2 linked regions of the Homo sapiens genome follow. The protein of the gene in region 1 interacts with the protein of each later gene in a pairwise test. Each region holds a gene or a part of one and is shown in the gene's direction. Other genes may lie near its edges.

Evidence for each region.
Region 2: the proteins of CYB5A (region 1) and PROM1 interact in a protein complementation assay, tested with the Homo sapiens proteins (one study listed by IntAct).

What each region holds. Positions count from the first base shown.
Region 1 is NC_000018.10:74,250,274-74,254,183, reverse strand, and holds the end of CYB5A (cytochrome b5), read left to right. Parts: intron 1-518; coding exon 519-600; 3' UTR 601-3,338; downstream 3,339-3,910.
Region 2 is NC_000004.12:16,080,751-16,088,268, reverse strand, and holds the start of PROM1 (prominin-1 isoform 1 precursor), read left to right. Parts: upstream 1-4,245; 5' UTR 4,246-4,291; intron 4,292-4,539; exon of another isoform or gene 4,540-6,164; intron 6,165-7,518. UniProt on the Homo sapiens protein: May play a role in cell differentiation, proliferation and apoptosis. Binds cholesterol in cholesterol-containing plasma membrane microdomains and may play a role in the organization of the apical plasma membrane in epithelial cells.

The sequences.
Region 1 (3,910 bases):
GTTTTTGAGACAGTCTCGCTCTATCACACAGGCTGGAGTGCAGTGGCGTGATCTCGGCTCACTGCAACCTCTGCCTCCCAGGTTCAAGCGATTCTCCTGCCCCAGCCTCCCAAGTAGCTGGGATTACAATTAGCTACTGCCACCACGCCCAGCTACTTTTTGTATTTTTTGGTAGAAGGTTTTTACTATGTTGGCCAGGCTGGTCTCAAACTTCTGACCTCAAGTGATCCGTCTGCCTTGGCCTCCCAAAGTGCTGGGATTACAGGCGTGAGCCACTGAGCCCAGCCAAGTGGGGCATGAGTTTTCTCATAAAGCCAGCAGGGCAGAGTGATTCCTAGTATAGCAGGGCATGTGTTACACTCATGTCACTTTTAGCAAATCCACGTTGCCTTTTCAGCAAAATTCATTACAGAGTTAAGAAAAACATGCCCTGGTAATTTTCTGTTAGAAGGAGCAAAGATTTTGAGTCCACCACAGTGCACATCATGTCAGCATCATTGCTTTTTGTGTCTTTCTAGTTGGTGGACCAACTGGGTGATCCCTGCCATCTCTGCAGTGGCCGTCGCCTTGATGTATCGCCTATACATGGCAGAGGACTGAACACCTCCTCAGAAGTCAGCGCAGGAAGAGCCTGCTTTGGACACGGGAGAAAAGAAGCCATTGCTAACTACTTCAACTGACAGAAACCTTCACTTGAAAACAATGATTTTAATATATCTCTTTCTTTTTCTTCCGACATTAGAAACAAAACAAAAAGAACTGTCCTTTCTGCGCTCAAATTTTTCGAGTGTGCCTTTTTATTCATCTACTTTATTTTGATGTTTCCTTAATGTGTAATTTACTTATTATAAGCATGATCTTTTAAAAATATATTTGGCTTTTAAAGTATGCACCGTGTTTGCCTGTTTGGTGTATAATTGTCTTTAATGTTTAGAATCTGGTTATTTAGAGGATTCCTTCAATGTGTTACTCATCCAGACCCACAGAGGCCATATGACTGGAGGTGCGGGAAATAGGTTTGAGTGTCTCCTTTCACATCGTCACATCTCATTGAGTAACCATGTATTGTATGCTTCCGATATAGTTTCTTTTTTTCAAGGAAATTAAGAAAGGCCAGAAATTATAGTTTAAGGATTTCTAATAATTGTCCTACTTGAAATAGATCTTAAAAAGAAAGTAGCGGCTGGGCATCGTGGCTCACACCTGTAAGCCCAGCACTTTGGGAGGCTGAGGTGGGTGGATCACTTGAGGTCAGGAGTTCAAGACCAGCCTGACCAACATGGTGAAACCCTGTCTCTACTAAAAATACAAAATTAGCAGGGCGTAGTGGCGCATGCCTGTAATCCCGGCTACTTGGGAGGCTGAGGCAGGAGAATTGCTTGAACCCAGGAGGCAGAGGTTGTAGTGAGCTGAGATCGCGCCGTTGAACTCCAGCTGGGCAACAAGAGTGAAACTCTGTCTCAAAAAAAAAAGAAAGTAGCCTACAGGGCCTATAAGAGAGACTTCTTATCTTCACTGATTGAAAAACATCAGCAACTTAAAAACACATGAACCATGAGAGGGCATCGCAACTGTCCATTCTCTCAGCTTACACGTATCATTGCAAAGGCACTCACAGCTTCATAGGTTCTAAAGTTTTAAGAATTCCTCATTCAGAGAGTAGAATTGTTTGTAAACTCTTCTAAGGAAAGGCTGGTTTTCTAATTTGTAAGGAGATTGTGGGACATTGGAATCTGATCTTTGAAGAAATTTAGCGGCTAGTGTCAAGCTCTGAAGAGTTCTGGTGTGGCTCTGTCTCCTCCTGGGGGCTCTAAGGGGCTGATTCAGTCATCTTACTTCCCATTTATTATTCTCTGCCTTATGTGTTATTCTTTTAAATGTGGAAACTTGAAAGCTGAATTTGTTAGAACCCAGTACATGTGTCATTGGCTGTGACTGCATTTGCACTGGCATGAGCTGACAAACCACGAGGTTCTTCAGAAGTGACCGCGTGCAGTGGAAAGGAATTGTGTTGTTCTTACAGAGTACAACCTTTATAATCAAATAGGATGCACCGCCTTTGCCTTCTTTAGTCACTGAAAGTTGACAAGTAGTTTCTATTTCAAAATAAATTACAACACTTGTTAAGGGACCTATGTAAATATTTCAATATTTTTGGTTGTGATTTTTAGCTATAAAGCTTCACATTTTAGTAGTTTTTAAAACATTGCTCCTAAATCAACTATGAAGTGAATCGAAGTGGGTCAGTCGTACCTTAGATGACATTAAAGGGTTAACTTGTAAATCATTTTTAAGATGTTGAGTAATAGCATCTGTATATCGTTAAGAAACATAACAGTTGAACTTTGACATTTTTATCAGTGACTCAGCAATTTGCTGCTGTGGCTGGCAATGTTTCTTCATGTGTTTTGGGAACAACATGTGGAGTAAAGGAGAGTTTACTTCCTAATTTTAACATTTACAGTTTGTGCAGCCAGACTCTCAAGGAAAGATATTTGACACTTTTTTCTCTATTGCTTTCCCTTCAGAGAGGTGAGAGACTTCAGAGGCTGCCCTTTCTTTTCATCTGCTGCTTGTGAAAGGAAAACATCTTGGGCCCCCAGAATCACTAAGGAAAACTCAAGCTGGAAACTGCTTAGGGCCAACCTGCCTCCCATTCTACTCAGTCAAGCCTCTGCTCACTGAGAGAGAGGCATATCTGATTGCTTCCTTTGGAAAGGCTAATCAGAAACTCAGAAGAATGCAACCCTTTGTGTCTCACCTCTCTGTGACCTGGAAGCTCCCTCCTGCTTTGAGTCTTCCTGCCTTTGCTTCAAGGTGTCCCGCCTTTCCAAACAGAACCAATGTACTTCTTACATATATTGATCAATGTCTCATGTCTCCCTAAAATGCATAAAACCAAGCTGTGCCCTGACCACCTTGGGTACATGTCATTAGGACCTCCTGATGCTTTGTCACGGGCATGTCCTCAACCTTGGCAAAGTAAACTTTCTTTTTTTTTTTTTTTTGTTTTTGAGACAGAGTCTCACTCTGTCGCCCAGGCTGGAGTGCAGTGGTATGATCTTGGCTCACTGCAACCTCCGACTCCCAGGTTCAAGTGATTCTCCTGCCCCAGCCTCCTGAGTAGCTGGGACTACAGGCGTATGCCACCATGCCTAGCTAATTTTTTTGTATTTTTAGTAGAGACGGGATTTCACCATGTTAGCCAGGCTGGTCTTGAACTCCTGACCTCAGGCAATCCACCCGCCTCAGGCTCGCAAAGTGCTGGAATTACAGGCATGAGCCACTGTGCCGGGCCTATTCCTTGACTTTCTTAATAAAGTTGTTTTCACTTTGCACTGCGGACTTGCCCTGAATTCTTTCATGTGCGAGGTCCAAGAACCCTCTCCTGGGGTCTGGATTGGGACCCCTTTCCTGTAACACAGGGACTGTATTGGGTGCACGTGTGTCAGTTGCTCACCTCCTGGGTTTGAGTTGATGATTAGGGCTCTGGTTGGAACAGGCATCTCCCTTCCTCTGGAGGTGTCTAGATGAAGGCAAGTGGAAGTTCTGGAAGCAGATTCTCCTTTGCAGCGTAGCCTTTCTGAGAGGTGTGCAGACACAGATGGCGTCCGGATCCTCAGCTTCTACCTAGATTGTGGGAGTTTCCCTAGGCTGCTGTAACCAAGTACACCACAACTGGGTGGCTTAGAACGACAGAAATGTGTTCTCATAATTTAGAGGCCAGACGTTGTAAATGAAGGTTTCAGCTGGGCCACTCGCCCTCCGACACTCTGGGTGGAATCCTTCCTCACCTCTTCCAGCTGCCACTGGTGGCCAGCAGTCCTCACCTGGCGGTCCTCACCTGACAGTCCTCACCTGGCGGTCCTCACCTGACAGTCCTCACCTGGTGGTCCTCACTTCACAGTCC
Region 2 (7,518 bases), on another chromosome or scaffold:
TCTTTGACTTGAAGTTCTCGTGAGCCTTGCAAATACTATCTTCTTATAACCCACTATTTTATGTTAGTAATTACTTAACACTGATTACATAAACAAAGAAAACTAATAAGAGCTCTACACCTTAACTTCCTCCCCTTGCTTCTAAACTCTTTGTTGTTTCTCCTTATATTTTATTGTGCTGTCTATGTCTTGACAAGTTGTCGTAGTTATTATTTTTGATTGGTTCATCATTTAGTCTTTCTACTTAAGATAAGAGTAGTTTACACACCACAGTTACAGTGTTATAACATTCGGTGTTTTTCTGTGTACTTACGATTACCAGGGAGTTTTATATCTTCAGATGATTTCTTATTGCTTGTTAACATCCTTTTCTTTCAGATTGAATAACTCCTTGTAGCATTTCTTGTAGGACAGGTCTGGTGTTGATGAAATCCCTCTGCTTTTGTTTGTCTGAGAAAGTCTTTATTTCTCCTTCATGTTTGAAGAATATTTTTGCTGTATATATTATTCTAGGGTAAAAGTTTTTTCCCTCCAGCAGCTTAAGTATGTCACGCCACTCTCTCCTGGGCTGTCAGGTTTCCACTGAATAGTCTGCTGCCAGATGTATTGCAGCTCCATTGTTTGTTAATTCTTTCTTTTCTTTTGCTGCTTTTAGGATCCTTTATCCTAGACCTCTGGGAATTTGATTATTGCATGCCTTGGAGTAGTCATCTTTGGGTTTATCTGCTAGGTGTTCTATACAATTCTTGTATTTGGATATTGATACTTTTCTATAGGTTTGAGTGGTTCTCTGATATTATCCCTTTGAATAATCTTTCTACCCCATCTCTTTCTCGACCTTGTCTTTAAGGCCAGTAACTCTTAGATTTGCTTTTTTAGGTAATTTTCTAGATCTTGTAGGCATGCTTCATTATTTTTTATTCTTTTTTCTTTGTCTTCTCTGACTGTATTTTCTAATAGCCTGTCTTTAAAAGTGCACTATTTCTTCTCCTTAATCAATTCTGCTATTGAAAGACTCTGATGCATTCTTCAGTATGTCAGTTGCATTTTTAAACTTGAGAATTTCTGCTTGATTCTTTAAAATTATTTCAATATCTCTATTAAATTTATCTGATAGAATTCTGAATTCTTTTTCTGTGTTATCTTAATTTTCTCTGAGTTTCTTCAAGATATTGATTTTGAATTCTCTGTCTGAAACATCACATATCTCTATTTCTCCAGGGTTGTTCCCTGGGGACTTATTTAGTTTGTTTGGTGAGGTCATGTTTTCCTGGGTGGTCTGGAAGCTTTTGGATATTCATTGGTGTCTGGGCATTGAAGACCACCCCAAGAGCCTGCTTAGTACTCTACCTCCCTGTGGCTGAGCTGGTACCTAAGGGGAAGGAAAACATCCTCTTTACTTTTCCTTCTGCTTTTGTCAAGCAGAAGGAGTCTCTCACATTAGCCACCACAGTTGGGAATATACTGGGTCTCACCTGAAACCAGCAGATCTCAGAGTCACACCCAAGAACCACAGTGTACTACCTGAGTATTGCTTCTGGCTATTGAGAACCCAAGGGCTCTTTAGCCAACAGGTGATGGGTCCTGCCCAGACTGTTTCTTTCCCTTCAAGGCAGCAGTTTCCCTTCTGGCCCAGGATGTGTCTAGAAATGTTATCCACAAGTTAGGACCTGGGATGGGGGTCTGATGACTCAGACTGATGCCCTGTCCTACTGTGGCTAAACTGATATTCAAGATAACAAAGTCCTCTTTACTCTTCCCCCTCTTCTCTTCAAGCAGAAGGAATGGGTCTCTTCGTGCTGTTTTTAATCACTCCAGCCACTAGCATTGGGACTGATGCAGACACTAAGGATCCAAATGATTATTTTTGTTTTGTTTTTTTAACTGCATTGGGATTAGGCAACAGAAGGGTCTAATGTGGCTGAGAGTTTTTGAGAGAGGAGCATTTTTAGGAGGGTAGCTGCATTCCAAGTAGAGAGCTCTGCTGGGGTAAAAGAGGCATGAGTGCTAGAAAAGGGCATGCAGTGATGAAGAGCCACTAACAGCACTACCTGGGGTTGGGGTAGGGGTGTCACAAGCACTCCCTTAGCTCCCCTGTCTGGTGTCTCAGTAAGTCGCATGCCCTCCAAGTCTACTGGCTCTGAGCTCAGCATTTGGGCTTGCTTAGGAGTTGCTGTCCTTGTGGCCTAGGCTGCCTTTAAGGTTATTTGGGGCCCCAGAGCACTTTACTGAAACTCAAGTTTTCACCACTGGTATGGGCTATTTCCTCTGAGGGAAATTGGCTGAGTTCAGCCTAGTTTTGCTTTCTGCTATGACAGAGCAGTACTGAGTTCAATTCAAAGTCTCCCAATCACTGCACTCTCCCTTTCCCAAGCCACAAGGCTGCTGCTGCTGGGGGATGGAGGACTGGCGGCATTGGCAAATCAAAACTGTCTTTCCTGGCTTCTTCAGTGCCTCTTTCAGTAATATGAAATTAAAACCAGGTATTGTGGTTACTCACCTGATTTTTGGTTCTTATAAAGGTGCTTTTTGTGTGTGTAGATAGCAGTTAAATTGTGTTCCTAGCCGGGGTGGGGGGTGGGTGGTCAAACCTTCTATTTGACCATCTTGCTTCACCCCTTTCTACTGATACTATTGTTGTTGATATTATTAGGAATGAAAATGAGCCCTGTGAGTTATAATTGTCTTCATTTTGCAGACCAGGAAACTGAGGCTCAGAGAAATATTAAGCAGCCAAAGTCACAGCGATTAAAAGAGGCGGGACCAAACTTTGACGGAGATCAGGACCCACTCCTTTGAGAAATCACCTCTTTTGCTAGCTCCAGCCTAAAAGTGCTATCTAGGAGAAGGTTTATGGGACCCCAGCAGATGTTCAACCAGAAACTTCTGACCTGCAGGGGCTGCAGAGGGGAAATCTGCCCTGATTAGAAGAGATTTGTTTTCCACCCATATTAGTTTGATCTCACATTGCTATAAAGAACTACCTGAGACTGGGTTTCAGAGGCTGTACCGTAGGCATGGCCAGAGAGGCTTCAGGAAACTTACAATTATGGTGGAAGAAGGGAAAGCAAGCACATCTTCACATGGCAGAAGGAGAGACAGAGCGAGCAAAGGGGAAGTGCCACACACTTTTAAATCATCAGATATCCTGAGAACTCACTCACTATCATGAGAACAGCAAGGGAGAAATCCGCCCTCATAATCCAATCACCTCCCACTAGGTCCCTCTCCCAGTGAATTATAATTCAATATGAGATTTGGATGGGGACACAGAGCCAAACCATCTAACCTTGCCATGTCCTACTGTACTTTTTGGAAGTTTTCTGAACTAACATTTCTTGTCTAGAAATATACACACTCAAGATCAATCTAACTATTAAAAACAAAAAATGCTTATTTTCCAGTACCTGTTTTATGTTAGATTCTGGGGTAAAAAGAAAAAGGTACTGACTTAATGTTCCTGTCTATCATTCATTTGTAGCTTGTGCATCCATCCTTTCATCTGTCTATCCATATCACAAACATGTATTAAACACCTGCTGTATGCTAGACACCATCCTGAAGGTGCATTTCTTCCCTAAGTCTTTTTTTTGCCTGCCGGAGAGTACAGTATTCTCAATTCAAGATAAGAAGTGGTGAATAAGAGTGAAGTGCAAATTGGTGAGGACACTTAGACACCGAGTGATTACTTCTGACAGGTTTCCACCACTCAGCTAAGTAGCAAGGTGAAGACTCCGAGGTTGAGTTGTAACTCACAGAGCGGGAAGACCAATAGGCAGTGAGAAAAGAAGTTGCAGTGGCTTCACGTTATAGCAGATGCCTGTGTGTACACATGGGAGCGAATATGGCTTTATGCTGTTTTTCAACCGCTTCAGCCACTAGCATTGGTACTGCTGCACACTAAGGATCCAAATGATTGTTTTTTTGTTTTTTGTTTTGTTTTGTTTTGTTTTGTTTTGTTTTAAATTGCATTGGGATTAGGCAACAGAAGGGTCTAATGCGGCCGGGATGAGACAGGAGAGTTTTTAGGAGGGTAGCTGCATTCTAAGTAAGGGACTCTGCGGGGGGAAAAGAGGCGCAAGCGTTGCAAGAAGGGAGTGCAGGGGGTTGAGCAGGCACCTCTACAGGAAATGGATGCTGTCCAGGTGCTGGTGGGCGCCCCAGGGCTACGTGGCGAAGCAGCTCAGCCGGTCCAATCAGAGTGCGTCCAGGGCTCGGGTTTCGCGATCTTTAAGTGACTGAGGCAGATCCCCACGCGGCACCTGGCCATGCTCTCAGCTCTCCCGCCGCGGTGAGTATGTTTAAGGAATCCTTTCCATTACGGCGGCCCCATACCTAGGTCCCCGTCCGGGACAGAGGAAGCCGCAACGGGTCCCCCCGGGCACCCGGGCCTTTCTCCTGCCTCCCGCCACGTCCGAGGGTCCGGCCGCAGCGCCGCCTGAGCCCCTCCGCGGCCGGCAGTGGGAGGCGGGCTCTCCGAAAGCCGTCGCGGTGGTCCCAGAAGCCGGGTCATAAATAATTCACGAGCCAGGGTCTGGCGAGCTAAGGGAAGGGCGGCGGCAGCGGTGACTAGGGCGGGAGCAGGAGCGGGAGCCGGGTGCACGGTGAGTAGCTGGGTCCTCATCCCGGAGCGAGAGAGGCATCTGCTGACCAGGCGCGGGGCTGAGCGCACTCCTTCCACTGTACTGGGGGTGTACAGTGAGGAGTGGACGGGTTCGCTCTGCGCCCCCCTTACCCTAGCCATCTGCGCCGCCTCCCTGGCCCCTCAGCAGGTGGTGCGGGCCCGGACAGCGGCTGGGGGCCAGAGGAACTGCGGGGAGAGCGTGGTGGTGCCGGTGCCCGTCCAACCCAAACTTTTTAGTCTGAGTGGTGGCCCGCGACGCCCCGCTTGGGTCTTCTTTCCATCCACTGGGGATGGGGGCGGGGGTGGGGGTAGCCGGCGGCCGTGGTTCCGGAGCGGGAGTCGGAGGTGAGTGTGCGAACTGGACCGGGGCCCCAGAGACTTCGGACTCGCTCTCGGGGAGAACGGTGACCGAGGTGAGACTCGCCAGGGTCTTGGGAACGAGTCTGCGGTAAAGGAAACTCTAGGGATGGCCCCGGGGACGTGAGGCGCTGAGCTTCCCTGGCTGAGTGCGGAAATGGGCCAACACTGTGCAGCCGACCACAGCGGGAGTAGGGATATGGGGGTACAAAGCGAGGCCATCTCCCCGCGTCCGTGGGAGAAAGCATGCACCCCTGGCTTGAAGCACCTTCCCAGCCTCTCGCTCCACGGCCCTTCTGCTTGCATGCGCGGGGACCCGCGGCTATCGCTAGATGGAGAACTGGGGTGCTCAAGGCGCACCCTGCCAGAACACGCCGACCGGACAACAAAGAGGAGCGTGGACAGACCAGGAGCTTCACGGCTGTAGAAAGTCAGAGGCTCGGGATCAGTTTCCCCGAAAGCCCGTGTCTGGAGGGGCAGGGAGTCGGATCGGAGGGAGGAACTAGCTCCAGAACCCCTTCTCTCTGGCAAGATCGCCCCCGATCGGTGCCCAACAGGGGCCGCGGCGGGGAACTGGCGCCGACGCGCTCAGAGCAGCCAAGTTACTCCGGCAACCCCCTCCCCTGCGCGGCTGCGAATTCCTGGAGTCTCTTGGCTTCCCGCGCCCGCCCCGCCGCTCATTCTTTTGTGTCCCGCAGCTCGCGAGAGGCTTCCGCCCAGAAGGGAGCTAGGCCTGGAGGGGGCTTGGCCTGGAGGTGGTTTGGAGGTAAAGGGCGGGGAAGCCGGCGCCCCAGGCTTCATTCTGCAACAGGTTGCTCCTGGAGCCCGCTAAGGCGACTGACCTTTCTGGAGAAAGGTTTGCTGGAGTTCCTGAGGGCGGCAGCTGTTCTTTGTTAAGAAAGCAAGTGCACGATCGTAGTTCTTGAGTGCCCCCCGAGACTCATGCGACACGAACAACCGCTGCGATATGTTGGGTTGAATCATAAGAAATTGTCGGTTTTTTGGATGGAAGATGTGAATATCGTCAACCTCATATGATTCAACTTGTGTGATGTTACTCATTTTTCTTTTCTCACCGTCCTTTCTGTCCCGGTTATCCTAGGAGCCCCGGTGGAGTTGAGCTCAGAGTATTGATGCTAGCAGAAGCAGACAGACCCCAGATAGCCTTCCAGCTGCGTGCCAGGTGCTTTACCTATTAGATCGCTAGCCTGCGAACCCTATGCGAAATCCTCCTTTGACAGAGGAGCAGAAGAAGGGTTGGAGAATTCAAACAACTGTCATCTTGGCAGAGTTAGTAAGGGGGACCAGAGCCCCCTTACTGTTGCTGTTGTCTGTCTATTCAGCAGTGCCCTTTAGTTTATTCTTGTTTTTTTTTTCATGTGTTCCATAATTTTTTTCTAAACTTCCTTCTGATTTCTAAACTTTTCTAAACTTCTTTCTGATTTCTAAACTTCCTTCTGATTTTTATACGAGACAGTTTCTTTGTGTTTTAGTACAATGAGGTGAACAAATGCATCAGAGGACAAGCTGAAAACTTTAAACCAAGTTGGTACTGTTTAAAATATAAAGGAAATAGGTTTTTCAGGGAGCAAAGAGCTATTTCTGAGATTTGTTAAGGGTCAAGATACTTTGTTAAAACAGTGGAAGCTGAGTCGGGGGTAATTTTTATCAGATAAAGGACTTCTTGGATTCTGTAAGTTGCCTGTTCACTCTGATGGTAGTTTCTTTTGCTCTGCAGAAGCTCTTTAGTTTAATTAGATCCCATTTGTCAATTTTGGCTTTTGTTGCCATTGCTTTTGGTGTTTTAGACATGAAGTCCTTGCCCATGCCTATGTCCTGAATGGTATTGCCTAGGTTTTCTTCTAGGGTTTTTATGGTTTTAGGTCTAACATTTAAGTTTTTAATCCATCTTGAATTAATTTTTGTATAAGGTGTAAGGAAGGGATCCAGTTTCAGCTTTCTACATATGGCTAGCCAGGTTTCCCAGCACCGTTTGTTGGGAATTGAACAATGAAAACACTTGGACACAGGAAGGGGAACATCACACACCGGGGCCTGTTGTCAGGTGGCGGGAGTGGGGAGGGATAGCATTAGGACATATACCTAATGTAAATGACGAGTTAATAGGTGCAGCACACCGACATGGCACATGTATACACATGTAACAAACATGCACATTGTGCACATGTACCCTAGAACTTAAAGTATAATAAAAAAATATATATACATATACATATATATATGTATATGTATATATATAAAAGGACTTCTTGAAAGGATGGTCCCTGGGTGGCTTAGGTAAGTGGCAGCAAGGCTGGCTAGCCAGGCTTAGGAATCTAGGACATGCCACAGGACCCCTGATGGGTGGGTGGCTGCGGCTGCCAGAACAGGACCCTGGATGTGGCTACTGGCATTGCTGCCATCATTGCTGGAATGAATTAGATACTGTCCTGCTTCAGAGTGCGCAGGCCCAGGCCCAGAAGAAAGCTTCTGATTGGCCCAGCATGGCTCAGCTCCACCAGGACACAGTTTGGGCG